Homo sapiens: one gene and its partner. The main gene of each other region encodes a partner of the protein of the gene in region 2 in a complex. Each region holds a gene or a part of one and is shown on either strand. Other genes may lie near its edges. The genes, in order: PSME4 and PSMB10.

Region 1 (10,865 bases), on a different chromosome or scaffold from region 2:
TCCTTCATCATTACATATAATATTAAAAATGTAGATAAAGCTTCTCACTGCCAGAAACACTGAGTGAACAAATAAGAGGAAAGGTTTTTTCATAAACTCACCTCCCCTATTTTCAATTACCTGTATATTCAAAAAGCATTTCTAGAGCAAACAACACATACAAGACAATAATGACTCAAACAGTTCCTTTGGGCCAACAACTCGCAATCAAATAAGACAGTCAGATATGACATTCCAAGTACCTGGAAGACGAAACATGTAAAAGTGAAATAAAATAAAGCATTAACAGATTTTTGTGGATTGATTTTTTTAGCCCAATTTTCATCATATATTAAGTGGTCATTGACTTTGAAAGTTTAGAAAGCTGTCATCACTTAAGTTATACCCTGAAGAGGCAACCTGAGGTCAAAATAATCTGACCATCTGCAGAATTAAGAGTCATAGGAGGCCAGGCATGGTGGCTCACGCCCGTAATCTCAGCACTTTGGGAGGCTGAGGCAGGTGGATCACTTGAAGTCAGGAGATCCAGACCAGCCTGGCCAACATGGCGAAACCCATCTCTACTAAAAATACAAAAATCAGCCAGGCATGGTGGCGGGCGCCTGTAATCCTAGCTTCTTGGGAGGCTGAGGTGGGAGGATCACTTGAACCTGGGAGGCGGAGGTTGCAGTGAGCCAACATCAGGCCGCTGTACTCCAGCCTGGGCAACAGAGCGAGACTCCATCTCAAAAAAAAAAAAAAAAAAGGCACAGGAGACAGCTCTAGCTAGAGGAGCAGATTAAGAATGCATATTTCGGTGGCAAGGAGAAATAACAGAATAAAATGTTGTAAGTTTCTATTCTAGTTTGCTTTGCAACTAACATAATCAACTCTGGATATAACATTTATTGATTTCAACCAGTAGCCAAGTAAGCAGGAACAGCATGGTTCTACAACTCTGTTAAGAACTCAAACTGCTCTGTCAGTCCCTTGGGGAAGTCATTTAATCTCCATAAAATCTGGCTTTCTTCACAAGGCTATGGTGACAGACTGATAAACGTACATGAAAGATGCTATAACTTAACGGTTCTTCAGTGGGGCTCTGGGTACCAGTTGCTTTTGAATTTTTTTTTATGTTCCACAGATGTATCACCTGGTTTGAAAACCACTGGACTGGCCAGGCGCGGTGGCTCATACCTGTAATCCCAGCACTCTGGGAGGCCAAGGCAGGCGGATCACGTGAGGTGAGGAGTTCGAGACCAGCCTGACCAACATGGAGAAACCCAGTCTCTACTAAAAGTACAAAACTAGCTGGGCATGGTGGCGCATGCCTGTAATCCTAGCTACCCAGGAGGCTGAGGCAGGAGAATCGCTTGAACCTGGGAGGCAGAGGTTGCAGTGAGGCAAGATGGTACAATTGCACTCCAGCCTGGGTGACAGAGCAAGACTCAGTCTCAAAGAAAGAGAGAGAAGAAATGTTAAGTGTAAACCAAATACAGAAGTAGTCAACCTCAAGGTTCCAAATGGGAATATTTATAGTATGTGCTGCTTTTAACATTCCAATAGAGGTCTCAATGAATGTAGAGGTTTTCTGTTGCTGTTGTTGTTTGCTTACCGTTTTTACTACCATGCTCTCAGTTTGGTGTTCATATAGAATGAGATTTTGATCTAATTTTCTACAAAGGTTAGACAGAAACATAGATTAGGATTTTTGTATTTGAAAAGGAGGGAAGAGGCGCTAGGTGCAGTGGCTTATGCCTGTAATCCCAGCACTTTGGGAGGGCGAGGCAGGAAGATTTGAGCCCAGGAGTTTGCGACCAGCCGTGGCAACATAGTGAGACCCTGTCTCTACAAAAATAAAAATAAAATAATAAAAACCTAGCTGGGTGTGCTGATACATGCCCGTGGTCCCAGCTACTCCAGAGGCTGAGATGGGAAGATCGCTTGAGCCTGGGAGGTTGAGTTTGCAGTGAGCTGTGACAGCGCCACTGCACTCCAACCTGGGCGACAGAGCAAGACTGTCTAAAAATAAGGGGGGGAAGGGGGATGTTTGAAATGCTCATTCCCCATTGCTGTAAAGAAACAGCACTTCAACATAAATTTAATTTCCTCAGCAAGGCCATTTTTATACTTTCTGCAGAAAAGGTACACTCGCCAGCAGTTTTGCCAGGAGAGTACACCCAACAAAGGAGACAGGGTCATTTATAACCCGAAGCGTCCACCCTACTGTTGTGTCCGGTTTCCACTTGCTAGAACGGGACCTCACATTCTGTATTTGTCCCGATTGGCTAGCAACTTAGAACTTTTTAAAAGAGGCAAAGGCAGAGAACAAAGGAAGGAGGAAGTAACTTGTGGAATGCTGAGAAAGATAAAAACACCTTCAAATAAGGAAGAGGAACAGGCTATGACCTAATGCTTGCTTGGACCAGTATAAGCATGCCAGGGCAAATATTTAGGCTAAATTGTGGGAGCTAAGAACATAAAGTACATTGATTTCTTCATTATGGCTAGCAGATATTTAAGAATGTTTGCAAGGGTCTTTGAATAAATTTTGCTTGTAAGAGAAGTTACTATTTATTCCTAATTAGATGGGGAGGAAAGTCTTTGAAGAGGAACCTCTACTTTTTACAGGGGCGAAAGGGATTCTCTAAAAATAAGTCTCATTTAGCAGAAAAAAGTTAATTCCCAGGTTCCATAAGAAAAACAGTTCTTAGAAGTTATATAGTTATATGCTTATTTACAAGCTTGCCAAAAAAAAAAAAACAGTAAAAATTTGCCTCCACTTCAATTAACAACAGGTATTTCAAATACAATTTTATTTTACAACACTGCAGAAAGAACACTTGGGAAAACCATTCTTAAGTGACATTCAGATCTCAGAACATCAAACGGTACATTTCTTTTTTCTAACTGCCTTTCTTAGTGCCTCAAAGTAAGGCATTAAAACACAGTGGTCAGAATGAGATTTTCTTTTCAAATAATACATTCAGAATTCCTATTTTCTTCAATGTTTTTGATGAAGTTACCACCTGGCCTAGTCTGTCCTAAATGAACAAAAATGTGCACTGAATAAAGCACACAGCTGGGCACGGTGGCTCACGCCTGTAATCCCAGCACTTTGGGAGGCTGAGGCAGGCGGATCATGAGGTCTGGAGATCGAGACCATCCTGGCCAATAAGGTGAAACCCCATCTCTATTAAAAACAGAAAAATTCGCCAGGCATGGTGGCTGCACCTGTAGTCCCAGCTACGCAGGAGGCTGAAACAGGAAAATCACTTGAACCCAGGAAGTGGAGGCTGCAGTGAGCCGAGATCGCGCCACTGCACTCCAGCCTGGGTAACAGAGCGAGACTCAGTGTCAAAAAAAAAAAAAAAAGGACACATACCATATGCAGTGGCTCACGCATGTAATCCCAACACTTTCCCAACACTTTCAGGAGGCAAAGGTGGAGGATCACTTGAGCCCAAGAGTTCAAGGCCAGCCTGAGCAACATAGTGAGACTTTGTCTCAAGAAAAACTTTAAAAATTAGCTTGGCGTGGTGGTATATGTCTGTAGTCCAAGCTAACCAGGAGCCTGAGATGGGAGGATCGCTCGAGGCCAGGAGCTCAAGGTTAAAACAGGGGGGTATGATTGCACTCCCTATGATTCCAGCCTGGGTAAGAGACCAAGACCATCTCTTCAAAAAAAAACACACAAAAAAGAAAGAGCGCACTGAAACTTCCAGAGGGCAGAAAACTTGCGCTGATACATCCCAAACGCCAAAACCAGTGCCCAGCCCACGCATTGCACTCAAAAAATTGTGTTCAAAGAAGATTGATGTCTGCCTCTACTACACTGTATTAACCCATGACTGTACACTAACCTATGAGCCTCTTGTGTCTTCATTTTTTAAATGAAGGTAACTTAAGAGAATACTTGTTACCCCAGGATTGAGTCTAAGTCTTCAAAGGTAAAAGGCAGAAATGAAAGATGTCATAATGTGAAAATGTTCATTAATGAGCTATTTTCTTGATCTCTGTCCATGAGATTTGATTACAGTAAACCTTAGGCAAAAAAATGCAAATGAAATGGAAACTCAGAAGTAAAATCACAAATTTGGCAAAGAAGCAGAACCTTATGAGATTGATCAAAGTGATAATAGATGTTAATTTTTTTAGGTTTTATAATAGTATTGGTATTGCTTTTTTTAAAAAATTCCTTTTCCTTTGAAGATATATACTGGAAACATTCATGAATAAATAATATACTTCAAAAACAATGGGGAAAGGGGATGATGAAAAGAACATAACTGGCCATGAGTTAATTAAGTGAAGATAGGTGATGAGGTTCATTATATTGTCTTTTGAATATTTGATATTTTTCATAATAAAAAATATGTAATGAAAAGAGTTTAAATATTAGAAAACTTCAAATCAGAAACACACATATGCTCATTGGCCAGTGATGTTCAGGAAGAAATAGCCAATTAACTAGTGAAAAGAAAACGACAAGCTGTTTTCAAGAAATTACTGAGAGATCTCTGGAAAACAGTAAGGGCCTCAAATATTTTTGAAAAAAAAGTATATGTGTGACATCATCATGAAAAATCAAATGTATGCATGTGTAGAGACAGAGGGTATACAGGAACTCTATACTTTCCATTCAATTTTGCTGTGAACCTAAAATTGCTCTCAGAAATAAAATTTTTGAAAAAATCAAATATGAAATATGTCTTATTGTGCTATTACATTATACAACTTTATCAAAGAAATTCATGTTCTCCAAAATCAGTTCCTTTTTTTTCCCCTTATGGAAAATCAACTTTCTCACTACAAAGAAATTTTGGTTCCCATTTTGAATGATCACTTAACAACAAAGTAAAACCTCTTCTATCACTCTCTCTAACTGGTTCTCACTGATGAGTTTGGTAACTTGTCAAGATTTCAAGATTCATTTACAAATAAAACCACTTGCATTTATTGTGTACTTCAATTTCAATACTCAAACATTAGATACTCTTAGGTGCCTCATACCAGACAATGCAGATTCAGCAGTTAGCATTTCCTTTCTTTCCCAACACGGGGATGATATGAATGTGGGTGCTCCTGTGGCCACTTATTACTTTCCACAAGAGAAGGTTTGTGTATTTGATAACTCATACCTTGACTACACCTAAGTTTCTGGTGGTTACATAATCTAATCAAATACATTATGTGGTTTCAACTGGGATAATCAATCCACGAAGGCTGCATAATATTTGTAATAATAAAACAACTGTACTTTCAATTCTAAAGGGTGCCACAGTTTTAATTAGCAATTAAAATGACTTCACATTATAATATAGTCACTTAATCATAAAACAATACAAAACATGTCACTGTAGCAAACAGGGAATCTAAATTTGCTTCATCTTACACCAAACCCACATACTTCACTAAAATCAAAATTCTGTTTAAACACACACACACACAGACACACACACACACACACGAATCATGGATGGGATAAGTTGTAGGAAACAGTAATCCATTCGCTTATTCTCCATCCTTTTCCCGCCCTTTCCTCCAGACCAGTTTACCAGTTTAAAAGGAACAAAGAACTAGAAAGGCCAAGTGATTTTTTTTTTTTTTTTTGTAAGACAAGAGTCTCCCTCTGTCGCCTAGCCTGGAGTGCAGTGGCGCCATCTCGGCTCACTGTAGCCTCTGCCTCCCAGGTTCAAGCGATTCTTCTGCCTCAGTCTATAGGCGAGTGCCACCATACCAGCCTAAATTTTGTATTTTTAGTAGAGACAGGGTTTCACCATGTTGGCCAAGGAACTCCTGACCTCAAGTAATCTCAGCCTCCCAAAGTGCAGGGATTACAGGCGTGAGCCGCCACACCCAGCGCATCCAAGTGATTTTTCCAGCAGTATGTTGTGGAGCCCTGAGGAGGTTTCAAGAGTTCTACTATCAAGGAAGTATTTTTTTTTTTAATGAGTGGGGTTTTAATTTGCCTGAGGAATCCAATTTCAAGTTTAAAATTTTGGTTGTGTGTTTTTTTGTTTTTTTTTTTTTGAGTCAGAGTCTCGCTCTGTCGCCCAGGCTGGAGTGCAATGGTGCAATCGCAGCTCACTGCAGCCAGCCTCTGCCTTCCGGGTTCAAGCAATTCTTCTGCCTCAGCCCCCCGAGTAGCTGGGACTACAGGCACCCGCCATCATGCCCGGCTAACTTTTTTTTGTATTTTCAGCAGAGACGGGGTTTCACCATGTTGGTGAGGCTGGTCTCGAACTCCTGACCTTGTGATCCACCTGCTTCAGCCTCCCAAAGTACTGGGATTACAGGCGTGAGCCGCCACGCCCAGCCAAAATTTGGTTTTTTAACACTCCACTACTGGCACTACATGGTGACTCACGCCTGTAATCCCAGCACCTTGGGAGGCCGAGATCTTGGGCGGATCATTTGGGGCCAGGAGTTTGAGACAGCCTGGGCAACATGGCAAAACCCCCTCTCTAATAAAAATACAAATATTGGTCAAGTGTGGTGGTACTCACCTGTAATCCCAGCTACTTGGAGGCAGAGACATGAGGGTTGCTTGAACCTGGGAGGCAGAGGCTGCAGTGAGCCGACATTGTGCCACTGCACTCCAGCCTGGATGACAGAGCGAGACTCTGTCTCAAAAAATATAAAAATAAAAAATAAAACACTCCACTACTTAATTTAAAGTTTGAAAAACCACTAATAATCTAAAATCTTGCCAGGATAATAATGTTAGGCAGGCCACGGTGGCTCACGCCCATAATCCGAACACTTTGGGAGGCCGGGGTGGCCAGATCATTTGAGATCAAGAGTTTGAGACTGGCCTGGCCAACATGGGGAAACCCTGTCTCTACTAAAAATACAAAAAAATTAGCCAGGCGTCGTGGCACATGCCTATAATCCCAGCTACTCTGTCTCCAAAAAAAAAAAAAGATAATAATGTTGGAGGCAAGGCCAGATACACCTCACGTACAGATAACCTGAGGTGTTCTAACGAGCACCCGCAGCCCCTCATGAAAGGTCCAGAAAGGCAAGAGGGCAAAATCAAGTTTTTTGGGGTTTTTTTCTTTGTTGTTGTTTTTAAGATGGAGTCTCGCTCTTTTGCCGAGGCTGGAGTGGCGCTTGGCTCACTGCAACCTCCACCTCCCAGATTCAAGCGATTCTCCTGCCTCAGCCTCCTGAGTAGCTGGGATTAAAGGCGTGCACCACCATGCCAGGCTAATTTTCTTAATTTTAGTAGAGATGGGGTTTCACCATGTTGGTCAGGCTGGTCTCGAACTCCTGACCTCGTGATCCGTCTGCCTCGGCCTCCCAAAGTGCTGGGATTACAGGCATAACAAAATCAAGTTTTAAGAATACCTTTCTTCAACTCCCTTCATTCTCTACATGGGCCATACAAGTTATCTACCAATATTTCACTCACAGTGTCCATGAGCTGTCTGCCATTGTCCAAAGACCATTAATTTGTTCCTACTTTCTCTAATTTGTTTCAACTTCTCTGATTTGTTTCTTCCCTTATTAAAAATTTCCCTTGTGATGTGTTACATCACACAACCTCTCTTGACCAGACAGTTCTAGTACTTTAAATTGTCTGTACAGGAAAGCCTCTATCACATGGCCAAGTATTTAAAAATATAGAAATAACCTTTCTTCAGAGATGTTAAACAGACCTGCAAGTTTCTAAATGGACTGAACTACTAAAAATGAAGAAAAAAGTCAAAAAGAAGGCTGGGGCGGTGGCTCAGCCTGTAATCCCGCACTTTGGGAGGCCGAGGCACACAGATCACCTGGGTTCGAGACCAGCCTTGCCAAAATGGTGAAACCCCGTCTCTACTAAAAATACAAAAATTAGCCAGGCGTGGCAGCGCACAACTGTAATCCCAGCTACTCAGGAGGCTGAGGCAGGAGAATCGTTTGAACCAGGGAGGTGGAGGTGGAGGTTGCAGTGAGCCACGATAGTGCCACTACACTATCTTGTGTCTGGGCAACAGAGTGAGATTGTCTCAAAAAAAAAAAAAAAAAAAAAAAAAAAAAAGTCAAAAAGAGGGACCAAATGTAAAGCCTGAGAACCTTCCAAACCAGAACTTGGTCCCAAACACACCTCTGATGTCCAGATTACGGGTGCACATTTCTGATCAGCAAGATAGTCCCACTAACTCTCAACTGCATTTACACTTTGGTCTTTAGGAATGTACTTGATCTATGCAACTGTTTCCAGTATTTTACAAATTATTCAAACAGTTCTTGTAGAAAGATACACACAATGACTGATGTGAAGCTTGACAGGATTAAAAAAATAAAACTGCAGAATACCAGAGTAGAAATGCTTCTCAAGAATTTAGTCCAGGCCGGGTGCGGTGGCTCACACATGTAATCCCAGCACCTTGGGAGGCCGAGGTGGGCAGATTGCTTGAGGTCAGGAGTTCAAGACCAGCCTGACCAACATGGTGAAACCCTGTCTCTACTAAAAATACAAAAAAAGTAGCCAGGCATGGTGGCACTCGCCTATAATCCTACCTACTTGGGAGGCTGAGGCAGGAGAATCGCTTGAACCCGAAAGGCAGGGATTGCAGTGGGCCAAGATCCTGCCACTGCACTCCAGCCTGGGCAACAAAGCAAGACTCCACCTCAAAAAAAAAAAAAAAAAGAATTATTTAGTCCAATCCCCTCATTTCACGCACAAGCATACTGAAACACATGATTAAGTAACTTTCCCACAGTCTCAGAGCTAGTGGGAGAAACTAGATTTTCTTTTCATTACCACTTTCTATTCTACAAAGTACTAAATATGATCACCACTCAGCTTTCGTCACACGTTTTGGCATTATTCAGATGTTCACTTATGCAACACAGAAGGCTTAAAAAACAACAAGCACAACTATGAACAGGTCACCTTAACATGACTTAGGAAAAAAACACACCCAAGATCACAACATGTCCCACCGCATTCAAAATGTCTCATAGTGCAATATCAAGAATCAGTTTCCAGCATCTAACCACTATTCCAAAATAAAATTCTACCCAGTAGCATTTCTTGCTGGTTATTTAGCTATAAATGGTTATGGGTTCATGGGTATTAAGCCATCAGCTATCTGCAATCCAGCCCTAAACACCAAACATTAGCTCCATTGTTATTTTTAGCCCTTTCTAGGTACAAACTTTTATCTAATAAGCCAAAACAATAACAAAACTCGGAGTGCTAATTTACCAAACTTGTTAACAATAAATACTTTAGAAAACAATGCTTAACTATGCCTTGGTAGATTCTAGGTTTATAAATCCAAAGCAGATATGCCTTCACACCATGGCATATTTATATAATGTACACTAAAAAAAGCTGTTTGCGTCCCCAAAAATGGTAGGTATTCTCTGGCAAGTCTAATCCAAGTGATTAAAATGGGGAATTACTGTAACAAAGTGACTATTTTTACTGTGCCTGAGCAACACAAAAACCTAGGAGTCTCACTTGAAAAAGCATTTGGATTTTAACTATTTATAAAATATTCTTTTTTGACTAAACGTGGTTCTCCCTGTTGCATTCCTGCTTCTGCCGCCCCTCACCTCCATTCTCCTAAGGATCCTAACACGAAAAACTTCATTATACTCTAGTCAAGGGGAGAGCTGTTAACCTTGACATTTTATGATCACTCTCTGAAGAGGGCAAATTACATGTTTTAGTTTTGCTTCTTTTTAATTAAAAAGGTCCCACCCACCCCTCAAGTGGAAATGAGAAATTTGTCAGAGGCCCCTTAATAATTGGCAGATGAGAATCATCCAGTGAATATACACAAAACTATTACAAAACCCTGAGTCATCACTCAGTTCAATCAGCAGCTTTGGGTAAACACTGAATGAGTGAGTTATGTCTTGTGTGTTCACCCGTCCATACCCACATGCGTGAACATACCATGTTACTAGATTTTATGTACAGTTAACCAAACAAGATACAGCAAAATTCTTTCTTAAAAAGCTCTTCGGACACAGTAAAGATGCCCATCCAGCAAGTAAATGTAACCTTTTTTCCCCCACTGTATTTTCACTCGTTTTTTTTTTTTTTTTCCTAATTTCAGTGACACTATAGTTTGAAGCTAGTTTACAAACAGAACTCCTGAAACTGATTTAGGTAATCTCTTAATCTGAGTAACTCAAAAAATTAACACAAGCCTGATACTAATATCGCCCTGGACATCCTGACAGTGCTCTTCCCTACTTTCCTCAGTATCTTAAATGTCTCTCCAAAAGAAATGTCACAACAGGAGCAACACACAATCCAAAACAACACTGTCCACATAAGACGTTAAGCTCAAGAATGAGGTCTGACTTTAAACGACCCTTTTCGATCAACTCCGCCAGGTCTGAGAGGGCCCCCAAAAAGCAAAACCCTTAAGTTTCCCTATGGTCTTCTCTCCATTCAGAAAGTTACTAGACGCCAACGGAGATGCGAAGAGGCGGGGATCGTAGGGGAAGGAAGAACCGGAGGAAGCAAGGAGACAAGTCAAGGAACTCCCCCAAAGACAAATTCTCTTTGCCCCGCCTCTCCCATGCGCAAAAGTCCACGGAGGACCCTTGAGAAAGGCTCACCTCTCTCCCTCGGGGCCGGGGCCCTTGGGCTACCCAGGGCCCCCCAGGTGGGAAGACAACAACCCGAACACTTCGGGAGAAGCAGATGCGGAGGACGTAGAGGGATGGTAAAGACCCGGGAAGTCCCGTAGGAAAGTGGCAGGGAGGACGGCTTGAGTACTTCACAGGCTCTGTCACGACCCTGGGATCACCGCTCGGGGACAGCTCCAGCGAGGACAGAGCTAAGGGTCCAGCCCTCTGGACAAAGAGCAACCATCCCCGACACCTCTCACTGAGCCTTTCCCCCCGGCCCGGCCCGCAGGCCCGGGCAC
Region 2 (11,349 bases):
CAGAAAGTGAATCCCAGCTATCTGCTCCCAGGGTTTGTTCTTGTAGCCCCAGAGCCTGCCTGCCCAGCCCTTGCCTGCCTTCCACTTGCTCGCAGGAGTGCCTTTGCCCAGGGATGTGCTTCACTGAGGATGGATCTGCCAGAGCTAGGGCCAGACCCCCCGAGGCCCCACCTGCTCTTCCCTAGGGAGTGGCACCAGGGCCCAGCACTGACACAGCTACCACCTACTCCCCACCCCCTGTACCCTGGGAGCTGGTCTGGAGAGAGAAACACAGTCTGGACAAGAGAAACGCTCATCAGACACCACCAATAAACATCAAACAGACACCATCTTGTTTCCCCCTTTCTGGAGCACAACTCTGTGGCCCCCATTGCTGCATAAGCCACACAAGGAGCAGAAAGACACATGCCCGAGGGAGGACAGCCAGCACCGCCCCCACCATCCCCACACATCCTGGGCCTCACCCACCATCCCCACACACCCTGGTCCTCAGGAAGCCCCGCCTACTTTTTTTTTTCTTTTTCAGACAGGGTCATTCTGTCGCCCAGGCTGGAGTGCAGTGGCGTGATCATAGCCGCAGTCTCAATCTCCCTGGCCCAAGCAATCCTCCTGCCTCAGCCTCCTGGTTAGCTGAGACTATAGGCACACAACACCACACCTAATTTATTTTTGTTTTTTAGTAGAGATGAGGTCTTGCTATGTTGCCCAGGCTGGTCTCAAACTCTTCACCTTAAGTGATCTTCCTGCCTCAGCCTCCCGAAGTGCTGGGATTACAGGCGTGAGCTACTGTGCTGGGCCTTTTAAAAAATGTTTATTTGTTTATTTATGTATTTTGAGATGGAGTCTCGCTCTGTTTCCCAGGCTGGAGTGCAGTAGTGCAATCTCCACTCACTGCAACCTCCATCTCCCCAGTTCAAGTGATTCTTCTGCCTCAGCCTCCCTAGTAGCTAGGATCACAGGCATGTGCCACCACGCCTGGCTAATTTTTATATTTTTAGTAGAGATTAGGTTTCCCCATGTTGGCCAGGCTGGTCTCGAACTCCTGACCTTAAGTCATCTGCCTGCCTCGGCCTCCCAAAGTGCTAGGATTACAGGTGTGAGCCACCGTACCCGGCCCTATTTATTTATTTTTTAAGCTGGAATCTCACTGTGTCACCCAGGCTACAGTGCAGTGGTGCGATCATAGTTTACTGTAACCTCAAATTCCTAGGCTCAAGCAATCTTCCTGCCTTTGCCTCCTGAGTAGCTAGGACTAGAGGTGCACTCCACTAAGCCCAGCTGATTTTTTTTTTTTTTTTTTTTGTAGAGACAGGGTCTCACTGCATTGCCTAGTCTGGTCACGGACTCCTGGCCTCAAGTGATCCTCCTGCCTCAGCCTCCCAAAGTGTTGGGATTACAGGGGTGAGCCATGGTGCCTGTCCCTGCCATCCTTTTGAAGCCCTACAGCTCCACCCAACAGAGGTCTTATCAGGGCTTCTCATTGAGTAAGCTGACACTGAGCATCATTGAATATCAGGCCTGCTCAAGCCTGTGGCTTAGAGTCTGTGTCTAGATTGGGCAGGGACAAGATTGAGCATCTGGCTGAGCCTACACTCAGCAGGTTGTGGGCCAGGGGTAGCCAGGCCTGGCTCCCTGTCCCACCTTGCTCCATATCCACAGGTGACAACCAGGGCATCCCCATCATGTCCAGCATCAAGCTGAAAGAGGAGCAGCGCATAACCACCACCTCCCCCTGGATGTTTCCCTCTCGCATGGCGTGGCCTGAGGACCACGTGTTCATTTCCACACCCAGCTTCAACTACACAGGCCGTGACTTCCAACGCTTCTTTGCAGACCTGCACTTTGAGGAAGGCTGGTACATGTGGCTGCAGTCACGTGACCTCCTGGCAGGACTCCCAGCACCTGGTGTGGAAGTATACTGTCTTTACGGCGTGGGCCTGCCCACGCCCCGCACCTACATCTACGACCACGGCTTCCCCTACACGGACCCTGTGGGTGTGCTCTATGAGGATGGTGATGACACGGTGGCGACCCGCAGCACCGAGCTCTGTGGCCTGTGGCAGGGCCGCCAGCCACAGCCTGTGCACCTGCTGCCCCTGCACGGGATACAGCATCTCAACATGGTCTTCAGCAACCTGACCCTGGAGCACATCAATGCCATCCTGCTGGGTGCCTACCGCCAGGGTCCCCCTGCATCCCCGACTGCCAGCCCAGAGCCCCCGCCTCCTGAATAAAGACCTTCCTTTGCTACCGTAAGCCCTGATGGCTATGTTTCAGGTTGAAGGGAGGCACTAGAGTCCCACACTAGGTTTCACTCCTCACCAGCCACAGGCTCAGTGCTGTGTGCAGTGAGGCAAGATGGGCTCTGCTGAGGCCTGGGACTGAGCTGGGCACCCTAGATGTACAGCTGCCCACTCTCCTGGTCGAGCTGTTGAGGCAGTGTGCACCGTGCCTGCCTCTGTGCTGGGCGCGGGGACTGGAGCTGGCTCCACCCACAGCCCTGTCAGAGGAGCACGGGGCGGTGGGGGGGCGGTGACAATTTGAGCTGTCTCTCCCAGCTCCCAAAAGGGCAGGTGAGACGACCTTTTGAGTGCTGGGTGAATGACAGGGCCACAAGTGTTTAGAGGCCGGGCACGGTGGCTCACGCCTGTAATCCTGGCACTTTGGGAGACCGAGGCAGGCGGATCACCTGAACTCAGGAGTTTGAGACCAGCCAGGCCAACATGGCAGAAACCCCCGTCTCTACTAAAATACAAAATATTTGCCAGGCGTGGTGGCATGCATCTGTCGTCCCAGCTACTCAGGAGGCTGAGGCACGAGAATCATTTGAACCTGGGAGGTGGAGGTCACTGTGAGCCGAGATCACGTCGTTGCACTCCAGACTGGGCGGCAGAATGAGACTGTCTCAAAAAAAAAGAGACTGGGTCTCAAAAAAAAAAAAAAAAAAAAAAGTTAGAATTAAAATCTGGGAGTGACAACCATTAATCAGATCATTTCACTAATGGAAGTTTAATTACTAATGAAGCTAAATGCTCTGAGAAAAGCTTAGGAAGCACAAGAGGCTGAGCCTTTCAGGTCAGCAAAGACTTCCCAGAGGAGGCAGTGCCTACACTGAGGTCAGAGTGACAAGAAGAGTAATGGACCACTGTAAAGACTTGGGTTCGGCCGGGCGCGGTGGCTCACGCCTGTAATCCCAGCACTTTGGGAGGCCGAGGCGGGTGGATCATGAGGTCAGGAGATCGAGACCATCCTGGCTAACAAGGTGAAACCCCGTCTCTACTAAAAATACAGAAAATTAGCCGGGCGCGGTGGCGGGCGCCTGTGGTCCCAGCTACTCGGGAGGCTGAGGCAGGAGAATGGCGTGAACCCGGGAAGCGGAGCTTGCAGTGAGCCGAGATTGCGCCACTGCAGTCCGCAGTCCGGCCTGGGCGACAGAGCGAGACTCCGTCTCAAAAAAAAAAAAAGACTTGGGTTTGACTTGATTGAGCCCAGGAGTTCGAGACAAGCCTGGGCAATATAGTGAGACCTCATCTCTACAAAAATTTTAAAAATTAGCCTGGTGCGGTGGCTCATGCCTGTAATCCCAGCACTCTGGGAGGCCGAGGTGGGCGGATCACTTGAGGTCAGAAGTTTGAGACCACCCTGACCAACATGGAGAAACCCCGTCTCTACTAAAAATACAAAATTAGCCGGGCATGGTGGCGCATGCCTGTAATCCCAGCTACTCGGGAGGCTGAGGCAGGAGAATTGTTTGAACCTGGGAGGTGGACGTTGCGGTGAGCCAAGATCACACTATTGCACTCCAGCCTGGGCAACAAGAGCAAAACTCCGTCTCAAAAAAAAAAATTTATTTTTAAATTAGCCAGGTGTAGCCACAGCTGTAGTCAAATCTACTAGGCAGGCTGAGGTGGGAGGATTGCTTGAACCTGGGAGGCAGAGGTTGCAGTGAGCCAAGATGGTGCCACGGCATTCCAGCCTGAGCAACAGCAAGACCCTGTGTCCAAAAAAAAAAAAAAAAAAAACCGTAAAATAGGCCAGGCACAGTGGTTCATGGTTATAAGCCTAGCACTTTGGAAGGCTGAGGAGGGTGGATCGCCTGAGCTCAGGAGTTCAAGACCAGCCTGGGCAACACGGTGAAACCCCATCTCTACCAAAAAAAAAAAAAAAAAAAAAAATTAGCCAGGCATGGTGGTGTGTGCCTGTGGTCCCAGCTACTCAGGAGGCTGAGGTGGAAGAGTGCTTGTGCCTGGGAGGCAGAGGTTCCAGTGAACCGAGATCACACCATTGTACTCCAGCCTGGGCAACAGAGTAAGACCCCATCTCAAAAAAAAAAAAAAAAAATTAAGATAAACCCTTTGGCAGCTGCGTGCTGCTCTTAGCCTCAAACCCAAGTCTTTTTTTTCCCCCTTTGAGACGGGGTCTATTGCCCAGGCTGGAGTGCAATGGTATGATCCATACTCACTGCAGCCCCGAACTCCTGGGCTTCCAAAGTGCTGGGATTACAGGTGTGAGCCACCAGGCCCAGACTGCTGAAGGGTTTAAACCAGAGAAAGAATGTGACCAGATTTCCAATTTAGAAAGACCCGCTCTCTGCAGGGTAAGGAGTAGCCTGGGGGTCGGGGGGCGGGGGGCAAGAATTGCAAGGTAACCAGGGAGGCCAGTGCAATGTCCAGGTGGGAGAGGATGCTAGCTGAGACTAGAAGTGCTAGGAAAAGGATGTGTGCAGACAAGAGGTCACTGGGGAGGTGAAATAACAAGGCTTGGCCATGAGTGGAACCCAACACCCATGGTGCCCTCTTGAGAGAGGGAAGATGGCACCTGAGATGGAAGATGGAAAGACCAGGGTCCCTGTGACTGAGGACTGAGCCTCTGTTTGAGGTTTTTGCAGAGGAGTAAAGGCAACAAAAGAGGCAAGAGTTGGAAGAAAGGTGACAAGGAACAAAAGTCAGCTATGCCTGATGCTACTGGGTGGCCAGCAACAATGCTGACTTGGCCAAGGCTCTGAGAGCTTTACTATGCTGGGACTGGAGGTCAGAGTTGAGGCTAGGGTAAGAGCAAGGGGCTCAGATGGAGGGGGAGGAGGACCTGAACAAGTCCAGAAGGGAAGAGATTTGTCCCTCTATCCAACAGAGTACCCAGTGAGCAGCACAGAGGGCACAGCAAGGGACATCACCCGGTTCCCCAAATGCTCAGAGCCACAAGTGAAGCCAAAAGTGAAAGACAAGATGCAGAAAACCGCCACGGGCCTTTGAGGAAGGGTAAAGGCGAAAGCGAAAGCAGGAAGTACAGACGTGAAGCCTAGCAGAGGACTTTTTAGCTGCTCACTGGCCCCGCTTGTCTGGCCGACTCATCCGCCCGCGACCCCTAATCCCCTCTGCCTGCCCCAAGATGCTGAAGCCAGCCCTGGAGCCCCGAGGGGGCTTCTCCTTCGAGAACTGCCAAAGGTGAAGCGGGGGCGCGGGGGGCGGTCACTCCTGAGCCGCCTCTGCTTGCTCGTGGCCTTTTTTCCTGGCTGGGGGTGGGGGAGGGTGTGTTGGTCGACTTGGGTTCCAGGCTTACCCCGGAAGATGAGGGAGACGGGGACCAGGTTAGGGGAAGCAACAGGGGTCTTGAAAGCAGAGCCGAAACATGGGCGCCCTCCTCCGTTTCCAGAAATGCATCATTGGAACGCGTCCTCCCGGGGCTCAAGGTCCCTCACGCACGCAAGACCGGGACCACCATCGCGGGCCTGGTGTTCCAAGTGAGCAGCGGGGAGGGACGGGGAGCTGGAGGGGAGCCGAGAGTATCGAGCAGGCACTGAAGCTGCGGTCCCTCCCTCTCCTCAGGACGGGGTCATTCTGGGCGCCGATACGCGAGCCACTAACGATTCGGTCGTGGCGGACAAGAGCTGCGAGAAGATCCACTTCATCGCCCCCAAAATCTAGTGAGACTCCCGAGCCCAGTTCCCGTACGCAAAAAAGAACGGCCCCCTCGTTCCCACTCCGGTCCCCGCACGTCCCAGCCCTGCCCACACCGATCCTCCCTTTTGCCTCAGCTGCTGTGGGGCTGGAGTAGCCGCGGACGCCGAGATGACCACACGGATGGTGGCGTCCAAGATGGAGCTACACGCGTTATCTACGGGCCGCGAGCCCCGCGTGGCCACGGTCACTCGCATCCTGCGCCAGACGCTCTTCAGGTGCGGGGGCAGGGCTAACAGGACCCCGGCAGGGGTAGTTACGGGGTTGGGGCCATTGGAAGGCGGGACAGAAAGAAGGGCGGGACCGCGACGGGCCAGGTGACCGGAAGAGGCCGGCCCAAGAGAACCTGGGCTACAGGAAAAGGCGATGTCAGTCATCGGGCGCCAGCCCACAGGAAGGGGCGGGGATAGCACCTAGGAGCTGGGCATAGAGAGGTGGGGCCTAGGCCCCAGCTTGTGGCCGACCCCGCCCATCCTCGAGCAGGTACCAGGGCCACGTGGGTGCATCGCTGATCGTGGGCGGCGTAGACCTGACTGGACCGCAGCTCTACGGTGTGCATCCCCATGGCTCCTACAGCCGTCTGCCCTTCACAGCCCTGGGTGAGCGCTTCTGTCCCTTCTCCTCGAACTCTGCCCCTGTGACCTTGGCCTCACTCCAAACGGCGTCGCAGCGGTTGACTTCAGATGCTTCTCCTGCCTTCAGGCTCTGGTCAGGACGCGGCCCTGGCGGTGCTAGAAGACCGGTTCCAGCCGAACATGACGGTGAGCGGCCTCTGTCCCCGACTTTGTGGTCGCTGGTGGGATGTGCACCCGGGAGCTGGGGGAGCACAGGACCCTGGCCCAGTGCGGGTGGCTAAGGCTTGTCGGAGGAGGTGACCACTGAAGGGTGAGTGGAGTAAGGGCAGAGAAGTGCGGTCCCGACATAACACCGTCCAATACCAAAGCCTGCACGGCTGGGAGAAGTCGAAGCTCACAGAGGATCTTTAGGAGCCGAGGGCGGAGAGAAGGACCAGTAGGGTCCTACTTATATCAACGTCTGGAGCCTAGATTTTGTTTGGGGTGGGATGGAAGCAGGTGATGTTGCCTCAGAGGTGGCTAAGGCTCAGAGGGAGAAACACAGTGGGGGTTTGGAGGGCAAGACCAGATTGGGTAAGTGGACAGGCAAGTCCCCAGGCTGTAGCCTAAGTTAACAGCAGAGAGAGCCCGTTAGGTCTCACACACCCATCACCGCAGCTGGAGGCTGCTCAGGGGCTGCTGGTGGAAGCCGTCACCGCCGGGATCTTGGGTGACCTGGGCTCCGGGGGCAATGTGGACGCATGTGTGATCACAAAGACTGGCGCCAAGCTGCTGCGGACACTGAGCTCACCCACAGAGCCCGTGAAGAGGTGAGAGCTGGAGATCGGGGACCACAGGGATGTGTGGGGCTATAGCAGGGGAGATAGGGGGCTGCAAAAAGGGGATGGGCCACATGACAGGCCCATGTTCAGAGGCTGTCCCTCCTCCCTCCCAGGTCTGGCCGCTACCACTTTGTGCCTGGAACCACAGCTGTCCTGACCCAGACAGTGAAGCCACTAACCCTGGAGCTAGTGGAGGAAACTGTGCAGGCTATGGAGGTGGAGTAAGCTGAGGCTTAGAGCTTGGAACAAGGGGGAATAAACCCAGAAAATACAGTTAAACAGATGGCTGTGTCATTCTTGAGTGGAATGGGGTGGGCAGGCAGCCAGCAGGGCTCTGTAGCTAAGGCGTCCCTGCAGGGGCCATTACCTACCATAGCTCTAGTGTCTGGCCTAAGAGATGCCCTTCACCCATAACCTCAGGCACCTACAACTCCAGAACCCCAGCCCTGGCCAGCATTGCAGGCTTGGTCTCCACCCAAACCTTCCTTCTGACTCCACACTTGAAGGCTCCCCCACCACTCCACTGTCTTGCTCTTGCCCTCTAGTCCACTGGAGACTTGTAAATTATGAAATACCCCATGTACTACCCCCTCCTAGAGACTTTCCATGGCTCCTCAGTGGCCCAGGACAAAGCTCATACCTTTCAATCAGGCCCCCACAGGCCCCACTGAGGGCTAAAGTGCTGACAAGAGGAGCCGCTCCCTGACTCCAAGGCAAGTTCTCACCAAGCACTCCTCAACCTCGCAACATCTTTACCTGTGACACCCCTTAGATGACGAGGCATGCCTGCACTGCTCACGTGAAGCTCGTCTTCTGTCTGCACATGCTGGGCTTGTGACTCCAAGTTTTCCAGGCTAATAAGGGTCACAGGACTCACATGGGGAGAGATGACACGTTTCTCCAACAAACCTTTGCTGGGCCCCTGCTGAGTCTCAGGCCTGGCTGCTGGGTGCCAGCAAGAGCATCCTGTCCTCAGCGAGAACGGCTGAACTCCGCTGGAGCTTCAGAAATGTCAGGGAGAGTCTACCCAGGGCCCAGGGAGGGTCTATGCCGGGCTGCACATCCCCAGGCCGCTGAGTGTGCTCCCTGCACCCCAACATTCTATTAATGAACATTTGTAAATGTAACAGAAAAGTAGAAAGAGTTGTATATTGAATACCCTTATACTGTCAGGTCACCACAGACCTGACAGTATTTTGTTATATTTGTTTTATCATCTATTCATCCCTCTATCCATTAATTCATCGCTCCTTTTTTTTTTTTTTTTTTTTTTTTTGAGACGGCGTCTCGCTCTGTCACCCAGGCTCTGGAGTGCAAATATTTTGTTATATTTGTTTTATCATCTATTCATCCCTCTATCCATTAATTCATCGCTCCTTTTTTTTTTTTTTTTTTTTGAGACGGAGTCTCGCTCTGTCACCCAGGCTCTGGAGTGCAGTGGCGCAATCTCAGCTCACTGGAAGCTCCGCCTCCCAGGTTCACGCCATTCTCCTGCCTCAGCCTCCCGAGTAGCTGGGACTACAGGTGCCCGCCACCACGCCCGGCTAATTTTTTTTTTTTTTGTATTTTTAGTAGAGACGAGGTTTCTACTGAACCTGTTAGCCAGGATGGTCTTGATCTCCTGACCTCATGATCCGCCCGCGTCGGCCTCCCAAAGTGCTGGGATTACAGGCGTGAGCCACCGTGCCCAGCCAATTCATCTCATTTTTTGGCTGATGCTGTTTCTTTGAGATGGGGTCTAGCTCCATCGCCCAGGCCGGAATGCAGTGGTGCACTCATGGCTCACTGCAGCCTTGAACTTAAGGGCTCAAGTGATCCCTCCTGCCTCAGCCTTCTGAGTTGCTGGGACTACAGGTGTGTACCATCATACCCAGCTCATTTCTTAATTTAAAAAAATTTTTTTTGTAGAGACAGGGTTTCATGATGTTGCTCAGGCTGGTCTCGAACTCCTGGAATCAAGCCTCCTACGTCTGCCTCCCAAAGTTTTGGGATTACAGGTGTGAGCCACCACACCCAGCCCTGATCTGTTCTTGAATCAGTTAAAGCCCTCACACTCCCAGAAGGCCGCCAGCCAATGCACCTGTTGGAACTTTGCACACAGGGTGTCTTCTCCCTTCAAGCTTGGTCTGCAGCTCAGTAACAAATGGGCTACAGACACCAGGGGCTTGCCCATGGGAGCCCCAAGGCCTAAAGAGGGTGGCAGAGATTTGATGTCTGTCACTCTCCACCTGCAGCCTCAGTCCACGGTCGGCCAGGCACCAAGAGCTCACACTTTGCCCTCCTAAATGCCAGGCCCTTCATAAGTATCATCTCATTGTTAAGAGCGGAGGCTTCAGCGCCAGACAAATGCGAGTTTGTGTACAACTCAACCACGTGCTGGTGGGAGAGTCACCATCTCTGAGCAGACCTGTGACTCCTGTTCCAAATGGACGAGGAACCACTGCGATGATGTGTTAGGACTCCCAGCCTGCCAGAACCTCACAGCCCCTGGCCCTTCACAGCAAAGTTGACCGCAGTGAGCATTCCATCCACCAGTCAGAACACCCTGGACGCTGAGCGGCCTTCTCTGAAAGCCTGGTGCCTTTGTTAGCCCTGGGTGACTCCTGTGATCCCAGCCACCAGGTTGTCACTATAGACCTAATTTAACCATCTGTCCTCAGTACCGAGGGCTCAACATTTGGAATGGGAGGTGGTTCTGGGAGCCAATTAGAGGCCAGGCTTTGGGAGGTGGCAGAGGTGAGTCTCACACCTGGGCTCTGTCTGATAAGTCTAGGTCTCGGTCAGGGGACCTTGGCCTAAAGGGCCTGTCTTGCCTGGAGCGTGGGAGGGGGCTGAGTCTACACAGCTGGCCTGGCCTCAGGCCTGGAGCTTTAGCTCAAGGACGAGAAGACCCATAAAGCCAGACCCAGCTCCCAACCTCACATCTGCCACGATGTTGCTGCTCAGCCTGACCCTAAGCCTGGTTCTCCTCGGCTCCTCCTGGGGTGAGTGGGCCAGGACCAGCCCTGATTCAGCCCTGGGAGCAACTCAGCTCCCAGCAACAGCCCAGGGAAGGAGCTAGGCTGGCTGGAAGGGACGAAGGTGGACAGAGTGGGCAAAAGAAACAGGATATGCCAGGGCAGTGGAGCAGGGAACAGGCCTGCAGGGCTGGGAGGGGGCAAGAGGTGGGGTGGTCTCACAAATAGGACCAGAGATTGAGCCAGGCCCTGGAGCCCGGGAGGGTTTAGGAAGCTGAGACAGGAAGACCTGTCCATGTCTTTTAGAAAGAACCTTCTGGCTGCATGAAGGGTATGAACTGTTCAGGTCGGGAGGGGGCAGAGAGACCAGGGGTAGAGATGGGGAACAGCGGGGACTAGGCTGGAGACAGATGTAGGAGAACAGCAGGGCTGGGGGACTGGGTGGATAGGGATAACCAAGATAGCTGTGGGGCCCGAAGGTGCTTGCATGTACCCTGTTGGGGAAGGGGTAGTGCTGTACCCTCTCGACAGACCTCTCTGGGGTGCACAGCCTGGGGCACCCAAAAGGAGGTGGGGAAAGATGGGCTGAGGCATGGGAAGCAGGTCCTCATTAGCCCAATGGCCAGGCTGCGGCATTCCTGCCATCAAACCGGCACTGAGCTTCAGCCAGAGGATTGTCAACGGGGAGAATGCAGTGTTGGGCTCCTGGCCCTGGCAGGTGTCCCTGCAGGTACACCACCAGAGGGGTGGGCAGGGTCCTGGGTACGTCATGCCTAGGGGCAGCCTCAGCAGCCCACCCCCACTCTGACCTCTGAGCCCTGACCACAGGACAGCAGCGGCTTCCACTTCTGCGGTGGTTCTCTCATCAGCCAGTCCTGGGTGGTCACTGCTGCCCACTGCAATGTCAGGTGAGTGCCTGCATTCCACCTGCCCCGCCCCTCGCCTCTTCCTGCCTCCTCCCCTGGCTGTCCCCCTCTCGCGCTGGCCTCCCTGCAGCTGCCTAATCCCACCCCCTTGCAGCCCTGGCCGCCATTTTGTT

Evidence for each region.
Region 1: PSMB10 (region 2) and PSME4 share a complex: the UniProt entries of both Homo sapiens proteins name them as parts of the spermatoproteasome.

The regions. Positions count from the first base shown.
Region 1 is NC_000002.12:53,959,672-53,970,536, forward strand, and holds part of PSME4 (proteasome activator complex subunit 4), read right to left. Parts: intron 1-10,865. UniProt on the Homo sapiens protein: Associated component of the proteasome that specifically recognizes acetylated histones and promotes ATP- and ubiquitin-independent degradation of core histones during spermatogenesis and DNA damage response.
Region 2 is NC_000016.10:67,930,789-67,942,137, reverse strand, and holds PSMB10 (proteasome subunit beta type-10), read left to right. Parts: upstream 1-5,287; 5' UTR 5,288-5,388; coding exon 5,389-5,444; intron 5,445-5,652; coding exon 5,653-5,740; intron 5,741-5,825; coding exon 5,826-5,923; intron 5,924-6,034; coding exon 6,035-6,175; intron 6,176-6,440; coding exon 6,441-6,556; intron 6,557-6,659; coding exon 6,660-6,718; intron 6,719-7,189; coding exon 7,190-7,341; intron 7,342-7,466; coding exon 7,467-7,578; 3' UTR 7,579-7,632; downstream 7,633-11,349. Other genes in the region: LCAT (phosphatidylcholine-sterol acyltransferase precursor), read left to right, coding at 1,660-2,234; CTRL (chymotrypsin-like protease CTRL-1 precursor), read left to right, coding at 10,286-10,337, 10,937-11,040, 11,139-11,218, 11,331-11,349. UniProt on the Homo sapiens protein: The proteasome is a multicatalytic proteinase complex which is characterized by its ability to cleave peptides with Arg, Phe, Tyr, Leu, and Glu adjacent to the leaving group at neutral or slightly basic pH.